Linked DNA regions of Homo sapiens: region 1 is linked to region 2. Evidence: fine-mapped QTL for protein levels in blood plasma. A gene starts in region 2. The other region holds a variant in brackets. All regions are shown on one strand. Distances are from middle to middle.

Region 1 (9,513 bases), 11 kb before region 2:
TGATGCAGGTGGATCACCTGAGGTCAGGAGATCGAGACCAGCCTGGCCAACATGATGAAACCCCGTCTCTACTAAATATGCAAAAATTAGCCAGGCGTGGTAGCATGTGCCTGTAATCCGAGCTACTTGGGAGGCTCAGGCAGGAGAATCGCTTGAACCTGGGAGGTTGAGGTTGCAATGAGCCAAGATCGTGCCACTGCACTCCAGCCTGGGTGACAGAGCGAGACTCTATCTCAAAAAAGACACATGCAAGACAGCCGTGCGTGCTGACAGACACATCAGCAGAGACACACGTCGACAGGGATATGCTGACACGTAGCTGAGTCACACACAGATACAGCCCACACAGGACACATGCACCAGACACACGTAAAACACACAAGTAGATGGCACACACTGGCAGCATATACCAGTGGATCCTTCATCTGTCACCCAACCCCTGCCTGCAGTGTGTCACTCTCCTTAGCCCCTGCTGTGTCCCCTACCCCCTTTTAAGATCTCCCTAATCCAGCCAAAATGTGTCTCCCGGGCCTGAAGTCAAAAGCCCCAAGTCAGAGGCATCTTTCAGCAGGCGGGACACACAGGCCACCAGCACTCACAGGGAGGGAGGGAGGATGGAGAGTCAAGACTGGTGGCGGGCTGGGCATGGTGGCTCACACCTGTAATCCCAACACTTCAGAAGGCAGAGGTGGGAGGATCGCTTGAGCCCAGGAGTTTGAGACCAGCCTGGGTAACACAGTGAGACCCCGTCTCTACCAAAAAATCAAAAAATGAGCCAGGGGTGGTGGTGCATGCCTGTAGTGCCAGCTACTCAGGACACTGAGGTGGGAGGATCACTTGAGCCCTGGAGGTCAAGACTGCAGTGAACCGTGATCGTACCACTGTACTCCAGCCTGGGTAATAGAGGGAGACTTGGGGAAAAAAAAAAAAGTAGGGTGGGCATGGTCCTTGCTGTGGGCGTGAGTGAGCCACAAAGCCACACACCCTTATGAGATCCTCTTTGTCTCTCCTGGGCAGCCCTGAATGGGAGAACTGGAGTCCAGATTCCTCTGCCCTCAGATCCCTGAATTATTTGATCTTACCCTTCCTTGGCCTGAAACACCCTCCCTCCACATCTCCCCATGGCTGACACCTTCTAATCGCTTGAGGAGGCCTGGCCCCAACATCAGCTCTTCAGAGAAGCCTTCCTTGACCACTCAGACTAAAATAGACACCTCCCCCGACTCAGGCCGGGTGTGGTGGCTCACACCTGTAATCCCAGCACTCAGGGAGGCTGAGGTGTGAGGATCACTTAAACTCAGGAGTTTGAGGCTGGGCTTGGTGGCTCACACCTGTAATTCCAGCACTTTGGGAGGCCAAGGCAGGAGGATCACCTGAGGTCAGGAGTTAGAGACTGGTTAACATGGTGAAACCCCACCTCTGCTAAAACTACAAAAAATAGCCGGGCGTAGTGGCAGGCGCCTGTAGTACCAGCTACTTGGGAGGCTGAGGGAGGACAATTGCTTGTTATCTACAGAATGAAAAAAACAAGACACATGCCCAGCCAGGCAGAGTGGCTCATTCCTATAATCCCAGCACTTTGGGAAACTGAGGCAGGTGGATCACCGGAGGTCAGGAGTTCGAGACCAGCCTGGCCAACATGGGGAAACCCTGTCTCTACTAAAGATACAAAAATTAGCCAGGCGTGGTGGCATGTGCCTGTAATCCCAGCTACTTGGGAGGTGGAGGTTACAGTGAGCCGAGATCGTGCCACTGCACTCCAGCCTTGGAGACAGAGACTCCATCTCAAAACAAAAACAAAAACAAAAAACTAATTAAAAAATAAAATAGGCCAGATGTGGCTCACAGGCTCACACCTGTAATCCAAGCACTTTGGGAGCCCAAGGCAGCAAGATCACTTGAACCCAGGAGTTCAAGACCAGCCTGGGCAACATGGTGAAACCCCGTTTCTACCAAAAATACAAAAATTAGCCGGATGTGGTGGCATGCACCTATATTCCCAGCTGCTTGGGAGGCTGAGGTGGGAGGATCACTTGAGTCTGGGAAGTTGAAGCTGCAGTGAGCCACGATCGTGCCACTGCACTGCTGCCTGAGCAACAGAGTGAGACCCTGTCTCCAAAAAAAAAATAAAATAGACATTCCCACTCTCACCCTGTGTCAGCCTCCGGTTCAGCTCCTTGCTGGTCTCCCTCTTAGAACCTATCAGAATTTCCATTGTCTGGAAGCCTTCCTTGACCACTCAGTCTAAAATAGAAAGGAAGGCTTATGGTTACATTATCCACATCCATCTCCCCTACTGCCCCAGGAGTTCTCAAGTCTGAGGTCGCCACATCTATGTCCTTGCCCACGACAGGCCTCTCCAGTGCCAAGTATAGAGAAGCTCTCTGCAAGGACACACCTTGAACACATATCTGCAAGCTCGTGGCTGTCTTTACCCACTTATTCAACATTTATTGAGCAACTGTGTGTGCTAGGACCCAATGAGGACCCTCAGTGGTGAACAGAACAAAGATCCCTGCTCTACTGGGGCTGATGTTCTAGGAGACAGTAAAAAAAAAAAAAAAAAAAAAACTCAGAGGCAGGACGCGGTGCCTCATGCCTGTAATCCCAGCATTTTGGAAGGCTAAGGCAGGCGGACTGCCTGAACTCAGGAGTTTGAGACCAGCCTGGGCAACACGGTGAAACCCTGTCTCTACTAAAAAACAAAAAATCAGCCAGGTGTGGCGGCATGTGTCTGTAGTCCCAGCTACTCGGGAGGCTGAGGCAGGAGAATTGCTTGAACCTGGGAGGCAGTGGTTGCAAGGTTGCAGTGAGCTGAGAGCACACCACTGCATTCCATCCTGGGTGACAGAGAGAGACTCCCTCTCAAAAAAAAAAAAAAAAAAAACCTCAGGTGTATGTCTAAGAGGATGTTAAGTTGTGAGCTGGGCTACAGAGAAAAAGTGTGCAAGGAAATAAAAGAGTTAAGGAGGTCGGGCGTGGTGGCTCATGCCTGTAATCCCAGCACTTTGGGAGGCTGAGGTGGGCGAATCCCTTGAGGTCAGGAGTTCGAGACCAGCGTGGACAAAATGGTGAAACCCCCTCTCTATTAAAAATACAAAAATTAGGCAGGTGTGGTGGCATGTGCCTGTAATCTCACCTACTCAGGGGGCTAAGGTGGGAGAATCGCTTTAACCCAGGAGGCAGAGGCTGCAGTGAGATCTTGCCTTTGCACTCCAGCCTGGGTGACAAAGTGAGACTCTGTCTCAAAAAAAAAAAGAAAAAAAAAAAAAAATGTCGGGCACCATGGCTCATGCCTGCCTGTAATCCCAGCACTTTGGGAAGCTGAGGTGGGTGGATCAGGAGTTCGAGACCAGCCTGGCAAACATGGTGAAACCCCATCTCTGCTAAAGATACAAAAATTAGCCAGGCATAGTGGTGGGTGCCTGTAATCCTATTGGGAGGCTGAGGCAGGAGAGAATCACTTGAACCTGGGAGGCGGAGGCTGCAGTAAGCCAAGATTGCGCCACTGCACTCCAGCCTGGGCCACACAGTGAGACTCCGTCTCAAACAAACAAACAAACAAACAAACAAACAAAAAAAAAAACAGAAAGAAAAAGAAAAAGTAATTGCAGTTTTTGCCATTACTTTTTTTTTTTTTTTTTCCTCTGAGACAGTCTCACTCTGTGGCCCAGGCTGGAGTGCAGTGGCGTGATTTCAGCTCACTGCAGCCTCCGCTTCAGGGTTCAAGCAGTTCTCCTGCCTCAGCCTCCCAAGTAGCTGAGACTACAGGGGTGTGCCACCATGTCCGGCTAATTTTTTTTGTATTGTTAGTAGAGACAGGGTTTCACCATGTTAGCCAGGCTGGTCTTGAACTCCTGACCTCGTGATCTGCCCACCTCGGCCTCCCAAAGTGCTGGGATTACAGGCGTGAGCCACCATGCCCTGCCTGCCATTACTTTCAATGGCAAAAACAGCAATTACTTTTGCACCAACCTACTAAAATAAATATCTCATCTGAAGGCTCTGAAAGAGACCTTGAGGTCAGTAGGAGCGGAGAGAGATCATTAAGTAGGGAGGGCACAGGCAGAAAAGGTGAGGTGCTGTTAGTGGCAGGGACTGCACCTGGCTGGTGCCTTTTTGGGTGTTATACCTGGCCCCTGGCTCCAGCACCGAGCACTGGCCTGCCCTCTTGTGCCATTTCCCCGTCTCATCTTTGCTCATTACATGTTTGCATGGGACTGGCTTCCTTCTCTAGGGCTCCGTGTTCCTGCTTTTGAGGGAGGAGGGGCAGAGGAGGAGGCTGTGGGGAGGAGGCCCAGCTGCTGTGCCTTATGCTGTTGGGGATGAGGGGGGAAGGTGCCGTGTAGTGGGGGTTGCAGC[G/A]GATACCCTGTGTGTGTCTGTTCTGAATCATGATGGGCTGAGTGGAAAGGCAGGGTGGGGGTAAACTGAAGCACTGTGGGTGGACACAGGACAAAGGAGGCATTGAGGGCGGGGCAGGGGTGCCCCCTTTAACAGGGAGGACATGCTAAGGGCTGACACCCATAGCATCAGCCAGTGCCTGCCCAGGAAGGTCTCACCGAAGTCTCAGGGCAGGGGCACAACGGAGAGGGCCTCCACCCACCCTGGCAAGGCGGCCTCAGCTCTGCCGGTAACCAGGCCTGGGGGAAGCACCTAGCCCCCACCTCCAAGAGTGACCCGGATCAGAGGGCAGTGCTGGGTGGAAGAGATAAGTAGGAGGAAGGAGTGAGGCCCCCACCCCTGCCCAAGGGTGTGAAGAGAGCAGAAAACAGGCACTGAGAGAGGACGAGCTCTAGGTCACACTGAGAAAAGACAGCCAGCCGGGCCAGGCACAGTGGCTCAGGCTTGTAATTCCAGCACGTTGGGAGACCGAGGCAGGTGAATCACGAGGTCAGTAGTTCCAGACTAGCCTGACCAACATGGTGAAACCCTGTCTCTACTAAAAATACAAAAATTAGCCGGGCGTAGTGGTGGCGCGCGCCTGTAATCCCAGCTACTCAGGAGGCTGAGGCAGGAAAATCGCTTGAACGTGGGAGGCAGAGCTTGCAGTGAGCTGAGATTACACCACTGCACTCCAGCCTGGGCGACAGAGAGACTCCGTCTCAAAAAAAAAAAAAAAAGAAAAAGAAAAAGACAGCTTAGATTGTGCCTGATGCATAGTAGGTGTTCAAAAAAAGTTTTTGGATTTTTTCGTTGTTTGTTTTTAGAGACAGGGTCTGGTTCTGTCACCTGGGCTGGAGCACAATGACGATATCATAGCTGGAAGTGGCTTTGACCTCCTAGGCTCAAAGGATCCTCCTGCCTCAGCCTCCCAAGTAGCTGGGACTACAGGCATGCACCACCATGTCTGGCTAATTTTTGAAAAATACACCAGGCATGGTGGCTTACAGCTGTAATCCCAGCACTTTGGGAGACCGAGGCAGGTGGATCACCTTAGGTCAGGAGTTCGAGACCAGCCTGGCCAACATGGTGAAACCCTGTCTCTACTAAAAATACAAAAATTAGCTGGGTGTGGTGGTGCATGCCTATAGTCCCAGCTATTTGGGAAGCCAAGGCAGGGGAATTGCTTGAACCCAGGAGGCAGAGGTTGCAGTGAGCCAAGATCACACCACAGCACTCCAGCCTGGGTGACAGAGCAAGACTCCATCTCAAAAAAAAAATTTTTTTTTTGAGGCCGGGCGCGGTGGCTCACGCCTGTAATCCCAGCACTTTGGGAGGCTGAGGCGGGTGGATCTCGAGGTCAGGAATAGAGACCATCCTGGCGAACACGGTGAAATCCCATCTCTACTAAAAATACAAAAAAAAATTAGCTGGGTGTGGTGGCAGGCGCCTGTAATCCCAGCTACTTGGGAGGCTGAGGCAGGAGAATGGCATGAACCCGGGAGACGGAGCTTGCAGTGAGCAGAGATAGTGCCACTGCTGTCCAGCCTGGGCGACAGAGCGAGACTCCATCTCAAAAAAAAAAATTTTTTTTTGAAACATGTTTTTTTGTAGGGTCTCGCTATGTTGCCCAGGCTGGTCTGAAACTCGTGGGCACAAGGGATCCTCCCACCTGGGCCTCCCAAAAGTCCTGGGATTACAGGCTTGAGCCACCATGCCCAGCCCCCTCAAAAAACACTTTTTTTTTTTTTTTTTTTTTTTTGAGACAGAGTCTAGTTCTGTTGCCCAGGCTGGAGTGCAATGGCAAGATCTCTACCTCCCGGGTTCTAGCAATTCTCCTGCCTCAGCCTCACGAGTAGCTGGGATTACAGGGCGTGTGCCACTACAGCCCAGCTAAATTTTTGTATTTTTTTGTTTTTGTTTTTGGTTTTTTTTTGAGACAGAGTCTCGCTCTATTGCCCAGGCTGGAGTGCAGTGGTGCGATCTTGGCTCACTGCAACCTCTGCCTCCGGGGTTAAAGCGATTCTCCTGCCTCAGCCTCTTGAGTAGCTGGGACTACAGGCATGTGCCACCACGCCCGGCTAATTTTTGTGTTTTTAGTAGTGACGGGGTTTCACCATGTTAGCCAGGACAGTCTTGATCTTCTAACCCCATGATCCGCCCGCCTCAGCCTCGCAAAGTGCTGGGATTACAGACGTGAGCCACTTCACCCGGCCTTAATTTTTTTGTATTTTTGGTAGAGAAGGTGTTTCACCACGTTGGCCAGGGTGGTCTCGAACTCCTGACCTCAAGTGACCCCCCCCCCCCGCCTTAGTTTCCCAAAGTTCTGGGATTCAAGCGAGAGTACTGTGCTCGGCCCTGGCTAATTTTTTTTTTTTTTTTTGAGACGGAGTCTTGCTGTCTGCCAGGGTGGAGTGCAGTGGCGCGATCTCGGCTCACTGCAAGCTCTGCTCCCCGGGTTCATGCCATTCTCCTGCCTCAGCCTCCTGAGTAGCTGGGACTACAGGCGCCCGCCACCACGCTCGGCTAATTTTTTTTTTTTTTTTTTTTTTGTATTTTTAGTAGAGACGGGGTTTCACCGTGTTAGCGAGGATGGTCTCGATCTCCCGACCTCGTGATCCGCCCGCCTCGGCCTCCCAAAGTGCTGGGATTACAGGCGTGAGCCACCACGCCTGGTTTTTTTTTTAAGACGGAATCTCGCTCTGTCGCCAGGCTGGAGTTCAGTGGCACGATCTCGGCTCACTGCAACCTCTGCCTCCGGGGTTAAAGCGATTCTCCTGCCTCAGCCTCCCGAATAGCTGGGACTACAGGCGCGCACCACCATGCCCAGCTAATTTTTGTATTTTTAGTAGAGACAGGGTTTCACCATATTGGCCAGGATGGTCTCGATCTCATGACCTCGACCTCGTGATCTGGCCGCCTCGGCCTTCCAAAGTCCTGGGATTACACGCATGAGCCACCGCGACCGGCCTTGGCTAATTTTTGAAAAATATTTTTTGTAGGGTCTCCCTATGTTGCCCAGGCTGGTCTGAAACTCTTGGGTGCAAGGGATCCTCCCACCTGGGCCTCCCACAAGTCCTGGGATTACAGGCCTAAGCCACCACCCCAGGCCCTCTCAAAAATCGCTTTTTGAATGAATAACTCGGGAGGTCACGACTGGAACCCTGGGCTTGTTCCACCTTGCAGAAACAGAAGCGGAGACAGGGAGTTCCTTTATAAAAACTTTATTGAGGGGATGGGTAGAAAATGGGGGTGACGCCCTTGGAGTTGAATACATAAATAAATGAATAAGTAAATAAATAAAGCAATAAATAAGCCCCCGTGTGAGTCTGGGGGGCGTCCCCCGGCCCGCGGGGAGAGGGGAGCGGGCTCACGCCGATGTCAGCTGTATGGCGAAGACCTCGCCCTCCGCCGGCGACTCGGCCGCGCCCCCCGCCGCCTCGGGTCCGCCCTCCGCGCCTGCCGCCCCGCCAGCGCCGCCGCCCGCTCCGTTCAGACACACGGCCTCGCCTGAGCTCTCGGCCTCCTGCACGTTGTACTCGCCCTTCTTGCAGGCGGTGGACTGCACGTAGAAGGCCAGGCCGGCCCCCGCGGCCAGCAGCGCCGCGCCCCCCGCCGCGCCGCCCACGGCGACCCATAGCCACGGACCTGCGGGGTGGAGACCCTCGCGGAGGGTGGCCAAGCTCCGGGGGGCTTCTCCCACCGCCCCCCGCACTCCCACAGGCACGAAGTCAGTCCTCATGCCCCGGGGAGCTCACTGTCTGGCCTTGGGAGAAGGGAGACAACCCATGCAATAAGGCCACTCCCAGTGCCAGGGCGACCCGAGTCCCGATTTATATCGCACTTCAGCCCATGGGGATATAAACCCGTGACCACACTTAGCCCCCTGGCGACAAGTCAACTCTCCCCATCCCCCAAAAAATGAGGACCGGCAGGACCAGGTCAGGTTCCCCCGACCCCAGAGAGAACCCAGCCCCAGGAGCTTCAGGAAGTGAGAGAAGGCGATCTTGACCCCTCTCTCCCTCCAACATCCAATGACTTTGGTCCCTCCCCAATCTTCCCCACAGTGGATTGTGAATTGGGTCAAGTTTCCACCACGCAGAATCCAGCCCAAGTTTTAAAGTCCTTTCCTGCAGCAGTGACAGCCCCGGAGGGTCCCTCCCCTTGAATTCAGTCCCCCTGCCACCTCCATCTCCCACCCCTCAAAGTGCGATCAACAGCCCCACCCGCTAAGGCACCTTTGACTTCTACTCTGTCCCACTTCCGTCTAGTCTACCGGGACCGAGAGGGAGGCAGGCGGGGCCGGCCGCCCCAAGACCCAGGTCACGCCCCCTCTCAGATACCTCGCCCCGCCTCTCCCCAGCTGCCACTTACCGGCCACGCGCACCGTGATGCGCCGCGCGTGGCGCCCGTGCGCGTTGGTGGCTGCGCACTCGTACTCGCCGCCGTGGCTTCCCATGGCGCCTGCCACGCTCAGTGTGCTGTTGTTGCTCGACAGGCCGATGTTGAGGGCCCCCGGGGGCGCGCGCCAGCTGATCTGGGCTGGAGGCCAGGCCTCCGCGCGGCAGGTCAACGTGAAGTTTCCTCCTGGGCGCACGCCTCCAGGGGGCGAGGCAGCAAGTTCGGCCACCACTGGCCGGTCTGAAGGGCACAGAAGGTGAAGTGGGGCTTAGCGCCGGCCCAGCCACTGATCAAATGCCCTGCTCCGGCCCACAACGATCGATGGGAGACCACCGCGCCTCTGATGGGCAGAAGAGGATCCTGCCTCCTATCAGAGCCTCCTTCCCCGACAATCAGGCTGCTGTTGCGGCTAAAATTCCTCGCCCTTCTTCACCGAATGGAAGGAGGTGAAGCCCAGGTCAGTGTTCTAATCCAGGATTTGAGGAGGGCCGTGCTCCTATTCCCTATAATTTTCTTTTTCTGTTTTTCTAAGAAAGAGTCTCACTCTGTTGCCCAGGCTGGAGTGCAGTGGCGGGATCTCGGCTCCCTGCAACCTCTGCCTCCCAGGCTCAAGCGATTCTCCTGCCTCAGCCTCCCAAGTAGCTGGGACCACAGGCGCCCACCACCACGACCGGCTAATTTTTGTAGAGACGGGTTTTCGCCATGTTGGCCGGGCTGGTCTCGAACTCCTGG
Region 2 (8,664 bases):
GCCCCGCCTCTCAGGCTGTACAGGCTCCTCCTCCCCAGCGATTACGTCTCCGCCCCCACCTGCCCCGCCCCTCGGGCCACGCCTGTTCCGGTACTGAGGTCCCGCCCACTCTTCGCCCCGCCTTCGCATTCCTCTGGTCCCACCTCGGAGCCGCGGAGACCCCGCCTCCTTCCTTACTGTAGATGGTCACGTTCTCCCGGGTCTCCCGGTTTTCGCCCCCCAGGGTGACGTTGCAGACCAGCTGCCTGGCACCCTCCTGCTCTGCGCTAGCTGTGGCTGTGGCAGTGGCCACGAATGCGTCCCCTTCGAGGGTGACATCAGGACTCAGATTCTGGTCCCCCAGTGCGAGGTAGACCCTGGCCTCTGAGGCTGGAAACAGTCCGTCCAGAGTGCAGCTCACGGGCCTTTCCGAGCCAACTTCCAAGAGCCGGGGAGCAGCGAGGCGCGGGGCATCCGGAGACAGGGCTAGGGGTCGAAGAACCAAGTTTGAACTAACTCCGAGCGCTCAATATGTCCTAAGCACTTGACATGCACTATCTTATCGTATTATCATCCTCAAGGCACGGAGGGGGAAACAGCTCAGCCGGCGAGGGTTGAAGTCGGGGTCAGCATTCAGATGTATCTACCTCTAAACCTCCTAAACACCGACCGACCCCACTGGGTCCCCATCTCCTCCCCACACCCACTCACAGAAGGTTCGGAGCTCTCTGGGGGCCGAGCTGTTTTCAAACAGTCCCAGTCCGTGCGGCCGCAGGTCCAGCTCGGCGCGACACGAGAAATTGGCTCCATGGTCCTCCCTCCGAGCCAGTACCGTGGCTGTGAGCACCGCGCCCCGCGCTCGGGGTGGTTCACCGGCGAAGCTGCGGCGGATCAGCTCCTGGGCGCCCCGCAGCAGGGTCAGCGTGAGGCTCGCACGGGGCCCGGCGCCGGGGACCCTACAGCTCAGGGTGAAGTTCTCGCCCACCGGCTGCCAGGGAGGCAGCGGCATCAGCTCTACGCGATCTGGTCGCTCTGCAAGGGGGAAGAGTCCGCAGCTCTTTGAACACCGGGACTTGGAACAGAAGGTGGGGCCTGAAGGGGAGGACCCTGGGACCCAGGGGGCGGGGCCTGGGAGGGAGGGAGAGTAGTGGAGTACGCGCGTGGCCACCCAGAACTCACGGAAAGTGCGAATGAGCCCACGCGCCTGTAGTGTGCGCCGCGCGCAGCGGAAGAAGCAGACGGGCTGAGTCTCCGGCTCGCGAATGTCCACCAGCTGCCGCGCCAACCAACGCAAACCCCTCTGGGTCCCGTTTCGGCGCAGCGAGGTCTCCAGGCCACCGCGCTCCGGCCGAGGGCAGTTGGTGCTGCAATTCAGCCACAGCGAGCCCCCGCGCTCCACGAACGCCACGCGAGGCTGCAGGTCCGCCCAGAAGGGCTCCTGCGAGACCGCTGCCCAGGGAAACGCGGGCTGAGCCTGGGGAGCCAACTCCCTGACATCTTAGCGCCCCTATGTCGAGTCAAGGGTTCTCAGAGGGCGGGGAGGAGGAGGAGAGGCTGCAGCCAGGGAAAGAACCCAGGCGTCCCGCGTCCTGCCCAGGCCTCCGGTTTAAAGGCGCACTCCCAGAGTCTAAACCTCGAGGGTGTCTCTGGGACGTGGTAGCAGAGAGCCATGGTCTCCAAAGCGCCGATGGAGCGGCGGGAAAGCATGGGGGGAGGGCGTAGAGGAGAGGAAAGGTGGGTTCTTGGATGAACACAGCAAGGCTGAGAGAAGGGGACCCGGGATGGGGGATGGGGGATGAACCAGTTCTCAGGGTCCTGGCAGAATGCCGGGATACGAGGAGAGTGCGTTTGCGGCAAGGGCAAAGGAGAGACGAGGCTGGGTCAAGGATCAGGAAGGACCCTACACCCGGTGAAGAACACGGAGCCGGGACGCAAGGCTGGGCTCATGGAAGGAACCGCGGGAACAGCTGAGGGACCCGGTTGCCAGGGCTCTGGGTGGAGCGGGAACAGCGCCTCTGAGTCAGGGTAGTTGGAGAGATGGAGTCTTCGCGGACCGCGAGTGGGGAAGATGCCAGTCCGTGGACCATGGTGCACAGCACAGCGTAAGGAGGTACCCGGGGAGCGGACAGGAGAGACACTGGGTCTCCAGGGCGAAGGGTTGGGTGCGGAAGAACACCTAGGATCTCGAAGCGGGTAGGGGCTATCGAGGAGTCAGGAAGCTGGGGCTCGGGTGTGTGTTGGGGAGGAGGGGGAAGGGGAGAAGACTCAGGCTCGAGGTGGGGGCAGAGGCGTGGGAGCGAGGCGAGGGCAGAGCTGGGAGGGACAGGAGGCCGTTTCTCAGGTCCAGGGACTCCGCCCCCGCCCTGTCCACCCCGAACCAGAGCGGGGCTCTTACCTGAGAGGCCGAAGAGCCCCAGGCCCAGAGCAGCCCAGAGGCCGAGTAGCGCCCGGCGCAGCCCTGGCGAAGGCCCTGGCATCGCCGCGGCGGGGAAAGCACAGGAGGCGAGGAGAGCGCGAGCCGAGGAGCTGGGCTAGAGGACGGCTCCGCGCGGCGCGGCGGGTGGGGTGTGGGGGAGGCAGAGTTGCGCTTGGGGATTGGTTTAACGTTGGTAACTTGGTTTCCAAGGAGGGGGCGGCGGCAGAGGCGGCGGGGGGGCGGGAGGCGAGCGTGCGCTAAGCTCCTGGCCTTGGTGAAGGCGAGCTGGCAGGAGTGAGCGACCCCTGGGGTCTACGTGGAGGCCGGCATGATGGCCCAGGGCCTTCTGGGGGCGACCACGCTCTCTCGCGTCATCCCCGGCCGCGACTCTGGGATCGGGGGATGCTGGGTTGCCCTTCCCAAACCCCTACCCCAGCCCTGGCTGAGATGCCATGATAATAAGCTGGACTCCGAGCCCCGCCCCCACATTTAGCTCCTCCCACCAGCGCCCCTTAGGGCGGGGATACATTTGGGGACTAAGAGAGATTTGGGAGGCACTGGATGGGGAAAGGACAGTTCTAGGGGAGGGTGTGGGGATGCCTCTCTCACTGATCCTTCTCCTTTTGACCCCGCGGAGCCATACCTCTAAGCACCCCTCCGGGTCAGCTCCCGCACGCGACGGAGGGGGCGGGACGAAAGTGCCAGCGAGCCGAGGACACGTGTGCGTGCGCGCAGCGTTCGCGGGCGTCTAAATTAGAATCCGCTCGGCTCCGGGTCTGTATTTACCCAGGGTGCAGCGGGCACGTGTCTACTCAGCGTGTGTGAGCTCGAGCCACCCTGGAGCGCCCCTGAGTCCGCCTTCTGCTCGGTGGGTGGGGGCCCTGACATCCACGCGAGAACAAGGGACCGAGGGTGATGCTTTTGACTCCGCTTCCGGGCCCCAAGCTTTGACACCCCCCACCCCCAACTCCATGCGCTCATCTGGCTGGGTGACTACCAGAACATCGTCAGAATTCGAGTTTGTGATATTCCCTGTGGACCATCTGATCACCCCTTCCCGGCTGCCACCACATGGATACCTCTTCTGCGTATCCACGTCCCTCAATATGTCCGTGGGACCCTCCCCTCCCCACCATTCGTGGTCTCACTCCAGCGTGGTAAGTTATTTTGGAGATGAGTTCTCGCTCCACAGTTGTTTGGCCTCCAGGAAAGCACAGGGTCTGAAGGTGGGGCTGGGATAGGAAACTTAACATCCAATCAGAGCTGCCGCGTGGTGGCGGCGGCGCCAATCAGGAAAGCCATACCATGAACCCCACCCCGCCCCTGCCCGTGGCTCTCCCCGGCCCGCGCTGATCCCACTCGATAAGGCCAGCAGAAGGAGAGGTTTCTGTGACACCCGCTGGGGATACACAGAGTCTGGGGCTTCGGGACCCCAGGTGGGCCCTGAGTGAGGAAACCTCAGGTGCCCTCAGGGAGACAAGGAACTTGGAGAAAGTGATCGCAAAAACAACAACAACAACAAAAACAAACCAGTTCCTCCGAAGAAGGGCAGTAATGCGGACCCTTAGGTCACAGGACAGAGGCTGGTTAAGGAAGCCTTTATTGATTCCAGAGGGTTCCCCCGCCAATATTTATTTTTATTTTTATTTTATTTTTGGAGACAGGGTCGTGCTCTGTCCCCCAGGCTGGAGTGCAGTGGCACGATCAAGGCTCACTGCAACCTCGACTTTCAGGGCTCAAAGGATCCTCCCAACTCAGCCTCCCGGGTAGCTGGGACCACAGGTGCGGGCCACCACACCAGGCTAATTTGTGTATTTTTTGCATAGACGGGGTCTCACTATGTTGTCCAGGCTGGTCTCGAACTCCTGGGCTCAAGCGATTCTCCTGCCTCGGCCTCCCAAAGTGCTGGGATTACAGGCGTCAGCCACCATGTATGGCCATTTCCCCAGATTGTTTCATATTCCTCTTTTTCTCGCTCAGCCGGCATAGAACATCCCCCTTTACGCCTGGGACTTCATAGCTAGGCACTTGCATAGGTACGCAGCGCCCACAGTGAGGAGGATCCCTACAAGGGCAGCGATGGAACCGGAGGCCAAAGCTGTGGGCGCGGGGCTCCAAGCTGGGAGCAGAAGGCGAGAATTAGGAACGGAACACAGGGAGGTCTGTCGACCCGCGTGGAGCTCACGCTTGGTCTGTGCGCCCTCTCGGGGTCATAACTCTCTCTGCCCCCTTCCTCCTAGTCCCCAGGGTTACAGGGGTGCCTCACCGAGCATCAGTGTAATGGGTGCCGAGCTGTTGCGGACCACCAGGCCGTCGAGATTGAGGCGCGCGTGGCAGATCACGGGCTGCCAGAAGTCGCGGGGTCCAGCAGCAAACTCGTAGGTCAAGGTCACGTTGGCCAGATCCAGGCCGGTGAAGCGCTCCAGGCTTTCGGAATAGATGACCCGGCTTCCATGCCTCAGGGTCACCACCAAGTAGCCCACCGGGAACACCTGCGTCACGTGGCAGCGCAAAGTGTATTTCCTGCCCTTTAAGACCGGAGGCTCCAAAATCACGCTGTGGGGCGGTTCTAAGGCAAGGGGGAGCCTCTGAGTGAGGTCCGCGGGCGCTCCCTATAGAGCGACTGTCAACTACCCTTCCCCCACCTCTTCCAGCCCCCTCCCCTCACCCCAGCCGGGACCGAGCCCCTGTCCCTCACTGTAGGCGGTGATCCTGGAGGTGGCCCAGCGTGTTTTTCCTGCGCAGGTCACGAGGCAGTGCGCGAGGGAGCTCCAGGCCCTCACGTCGAGCAGCTGGTAAGACACCCAACCCGGCCCTCTGAGCGTCTTGCCTTGCCGCAGCGGGGTGCGGAGGCTGGAATTCTGCGGCTGGGGACAGCTGTTGCTGCAATTGAGCTGCACTGACTTCCCCGGCTGCACAGCCACGAACTCCGGGCTCATGCGCACCCAGAAGGGCACTGAGGTCCCGGAGGGCGCGAGAGGGCTACCCTTGGGGCTTTGCGCCCGCTTAGTCCGGCGTCCCAGCGCGCTCCCAACTCCCGGGTAGGCGGCCGCCAAAAAAAACAGCAGCGACAGAGGGAACAGAGACCCCATGGCAAAAAGCCCGGACTAAGGGGCCCCGCGCCAGAGAGCCAGGGCCGGCTCTAGAGATAAGGAGGCCCGCAGCCCCGCCTCCTCGACTCCACCCTGGAGAGGAAGGGGAGGCCCCAACAGAGGGCCCGGGAGTACTGCAAAAAGGGATTCCGCTCCCCAGGTCAAGAATAAGATTCCAGGCCTCATTAGAAACCAAATGTTTTTTTCTGGAGAGGAGTCTTTAGTTTTCACTAGAGACCCAGAAGGTCATAGAAAGTCCGATTTGGACCAGAACCTCAGGGTATGGCCATCAACCCACAATGTTTTCTTGGGGGAGGAAGTGGGAGGATCAGGCTGTGGCTGCTTAGAAAGGACTCCAGCTGGATGTGACACCTCCCCTCAACTCACACAAGGCTGAGGCAGTTGAGAAAGCTTTATTAACTAACACAAAGGAAGTCTGGGCAATGTTGCGAGACCCCGTCTCTGGAAAAAAAAAAAAAATCAAATTTGCCAGGTGTGGTGTTGTGAGCCTATGGTCCCAGCTACTCAGGAGGCTGAGGTGGGAGGATCACTTGAGCCCAAAAGGTCAAGACTGCAGTGAACCATGATTGCACCACTGCACTCCAGCCTGGGTGACAGAGCGAGAGCTTGTCTACACATACACACACACACACACGCGGATGAGGCTTCCAAAGCTGGGAGGGAGTCCTCCAATACCTTGGCCCCCTTCCCCACTGCTTGCAGGACCCTGATCACTGCAGGAAACTGGAGCTGCATAGTGCAAGCTCCCAGTGAAATGCAAACAGGACAAGAGGACAAGGCATAGCTTGGGCATATTCCCTGGGCACTCATGTCCAGACATGACCGCTGAGTGTCATTGTGAACACTGGCAGAAATGTATGTGGGTGGGGAGGTGGCTAACAAAGGTGTCAGTTTTGGGGGGAAGGGAGGAATAAGGCCTCACTGGGTAATCTCTGAACCTGTAACCATTACCAGTCCATATAGTGCTTTTGTGCCGATAGAAAAATCACTCCTTCTGGGGAAAGGCAGGTTGGCCAATGAGAAGTCCCAGCCCCATTTGATCTTTTTGCCAGGCACTCTCCTGCAGTGTACAACCTGTACAACTGTACCTGGTGACCTTGAATGTGATTAGGACTGGGAGCTCCGTGAGGCCAGAGACCTATGTTCATTTAGCCTACATAAAAGACACTCAATAAATAGCTGGTAAAATAACAAATGAATAAATACATATCATCAAGGGTTGGGGTCAGTAGACAGCAGTGCCCAAGCTGGCATCCGTCAGGAAGTGTGGGCCTTTGTGTTTTGATGCTACACATGTCTATGGAGGGCCACTTCTTCTGTAAGTCTGTGGGGCCTCAGCATACCCAATAGGCAGCAAGTTTCAGTATTTCCCAGTTGTATGTCCTCATGGTGGGGCTATGTCTCCCCCACCACTTCCCCTCTCATCAGGCTAGACTTTAACATCCATCAATCATGTCTTGAGTCTTGCTCCTTCCTCTTGGCTTAGTCATGTGACTACAGATCAGATGCGTGGCCTAGTGTTTTAGGTGTGCAGGTACCATGGCCCCAAATGCTGTTGTATCTGACTGAGGACAATGCCCTGTCCTCCGGCGTCCCAGGGCCGGTAGGTGTAGCTGCATGGCATATGTCTTCCACTCTGTTCAGTGTGGCACCACTGCCACCAATATGGGAAGGCCGAGGAAGAGGCCCTGTCCCGGGATAGGTTCAGGGAGGCGTGGCTTGTGTGTTCGGTTTCATGGGGGTCCCTTTTTGGGCCTGTTGTAGTCTGTATTTCTTGATCTTCCGCTGGCGGTTATAGAGGTACGTGCTGAGGCCTGCAGTGCCCATTATGACTGCGGCTGCTACCACAGTGATGATGACAATCTCATACCGGGGGGCTGTGGGGAGGATACAACAGGCGGTGAGGATTGCATTAGGTCCATGGCCCCTGCCCCCACCCAGCTCTGCCCGCCGGCTCACTCACAGAGCACATTCACGGTCACCTTGCGGGTGACCTCCCCTTGAGTGCTCCTGGCCCGACAGAGGTAGGTGCCCTCAAGATCTCGAGTGACAGTCACTGATTCCCCGATGGGCAGTGGGAAAGTGCCATCCTTTAGACACTTGAGCTCGGGCAATGGGTTCCCCCAAGCCTGGCACATTGGAGTCTGCTGGGAATTTTCTGGCCACGTCCAGTTTCCCGGACAATCCCTCTCGTCCAGTCGGGGGCCATCTGGAAAAACACGATGAGATGACATGGAGGTGGGTGGGGGCAGGACTTGGAGGCAAGACCTTATGGGACCTTCAGGGAGATTGGGCCTTGGGGGATAGGGGCCATTGACCAGCAGCCCCACTCACACAGGACACGAAGCTCCCGGGTCTGGTTCTTGTGTATAAGCTGGCCGGCCACCTCCAGGGTTGCAGAGCAGGAGAAGCTGCGCCCGTTGTCCTCTGGGGTGGCCTTCAGCAGGAGCTGGGCCCTCGGGCCCAGTGGCTGGGCTGGAACCCCATTCAGCGTCACCTTGGCTCTAGGGTGGGCCTCACACTTCACTGTCACCTCGGTCCCTTCTGAGACCTCTGGCTTCGTCAGAATCACGTTGGGCGCCGGAAAGCCTGGAATAGGCACACAGTGAGCCCCGCCCCGGGTTCAGGTCACACCCCCAAGAAGCCCCACTCCGCCCCTGCCCCTTCTTACTGTAGATGGTCACTGTCTGCAGTGTCTCCTGGCTCTGGTTCCCCAGTATTACTGCACACGTCAGCCGCTGGGTGCCCTCGTCCTCTGCGGTCACACTGACTGAGGCCTTGGCCGAGAAGGAGTCGTTGCCATAGGTGACTGTGGGGTTCAACCTCTGGTCCCCCAGTGCCAGGTGGACCTGGGCCTCCGAGACTGGGAACAGCCCGTCCAGGGAACAGACCACGGTCCCCTGCGTGTCCACCTCTAGGACCCGGGGGCTGACAAGTTGTGGGGGAGTCGCTGGCAGGACTAGGGAGAGAAGAAAGGTGTGAGCAGACAGGGATGGACGTCCCGAAGCCCTTCTCTGGGGCATTTCATTCCCCCTCCTGCGAGATCCTCTTCCAGGGCCACTCAGCAGCCTAGGTCACATACGCCTAGAACACATGCACCCCTTAGCCGGGGCCACACCCATCTCAAAAGATCCTGTGGCCACAGGCACCGCATTG

The links. PIP is the chance, under the fine-mapping model, that this variant and not a neighbour inherited with it causes the effect. Protein levels are from antibody-based Olink assays in UK Biobank. Linkage for the fine-mapping came from a reference panel and not from the study's own genotypes, which makes the PIPs less certain.
Region 1: its variant is fine-mapped to the plasma level of the ICAM5 protein (UK Biobank, PIP 0.97).

Annotation. Positions count from the first base shown.
Region 1 is chr19:10,294,854-10,304,366 of GRCh38, reverse strand. ICAM5 (intercellular adhesion molecule 5) reads right to left here. Exons shown (of 11, transcript NM_003259.4): 10 at 8,755-9,021; 11 at 7,589-8,028. The coding sequence ends at 7,751. Among named protein-coding and RNA genes, the nearest start is that of ICAM5, 9.7 kb to the right of the region's middle. RefSeq lists an enhancer at 4,484-4,733, a silencer at 4,640-4,804 and a cis regulatory region at 4,093-4,925. The variant G/A (reference allele first, on the strand shown) is at 4,363.
Region 2 is chr19:10,283,836-10,292,499 of GRCh38, reverse strand. ICAM5 (intercellular adhesion molecule 5) reads right to left here and starts at 2,548. Exons shown (of 11, transcript NM_003259.4): 1 at 2,375-2,548; 2 at 1,159-1,428; 3 at 691-1,011; 4 at 178-465. The coding sequence starts at 2,456. It overlaps ICAM1 (intercellular adhesion molecule 1), which reads right to left. Exons shown (of 7, transcript NM_000201.3): 4 at 8,180-8,467; 5 at 7,843-8,097; 6 at 7,472-7,717; 7 at 5,885-7,385. The coding sequence ends at 7,213. It overlaps ICAM4 (intercellular adhesion molecule 4 (Landsteiner-Wiener blood group)), which reads right to left and starts at 5,545. Exons shown (of 3, transcript NM_001544.5): 1 at 5,094-5,545; 2 at 4,662-4,964; 3 at 3,980-4,514. The coding sequence starts at 5,487. The coding sequence ends at 4,396. ICAM4-AS1 (ICAM4 antisense RNA 1) reads left to right here and starts at 3,481. Exons shown (of 1, transcript NR_186335.1): 1 at 3,481-6,699. RefSeq lists silencers at 1-73, 1,084-1,153, 3,624-3,693 and enhancers at 1-693, 5,418-5,557, 4,904-5,873, 5,928-5,977.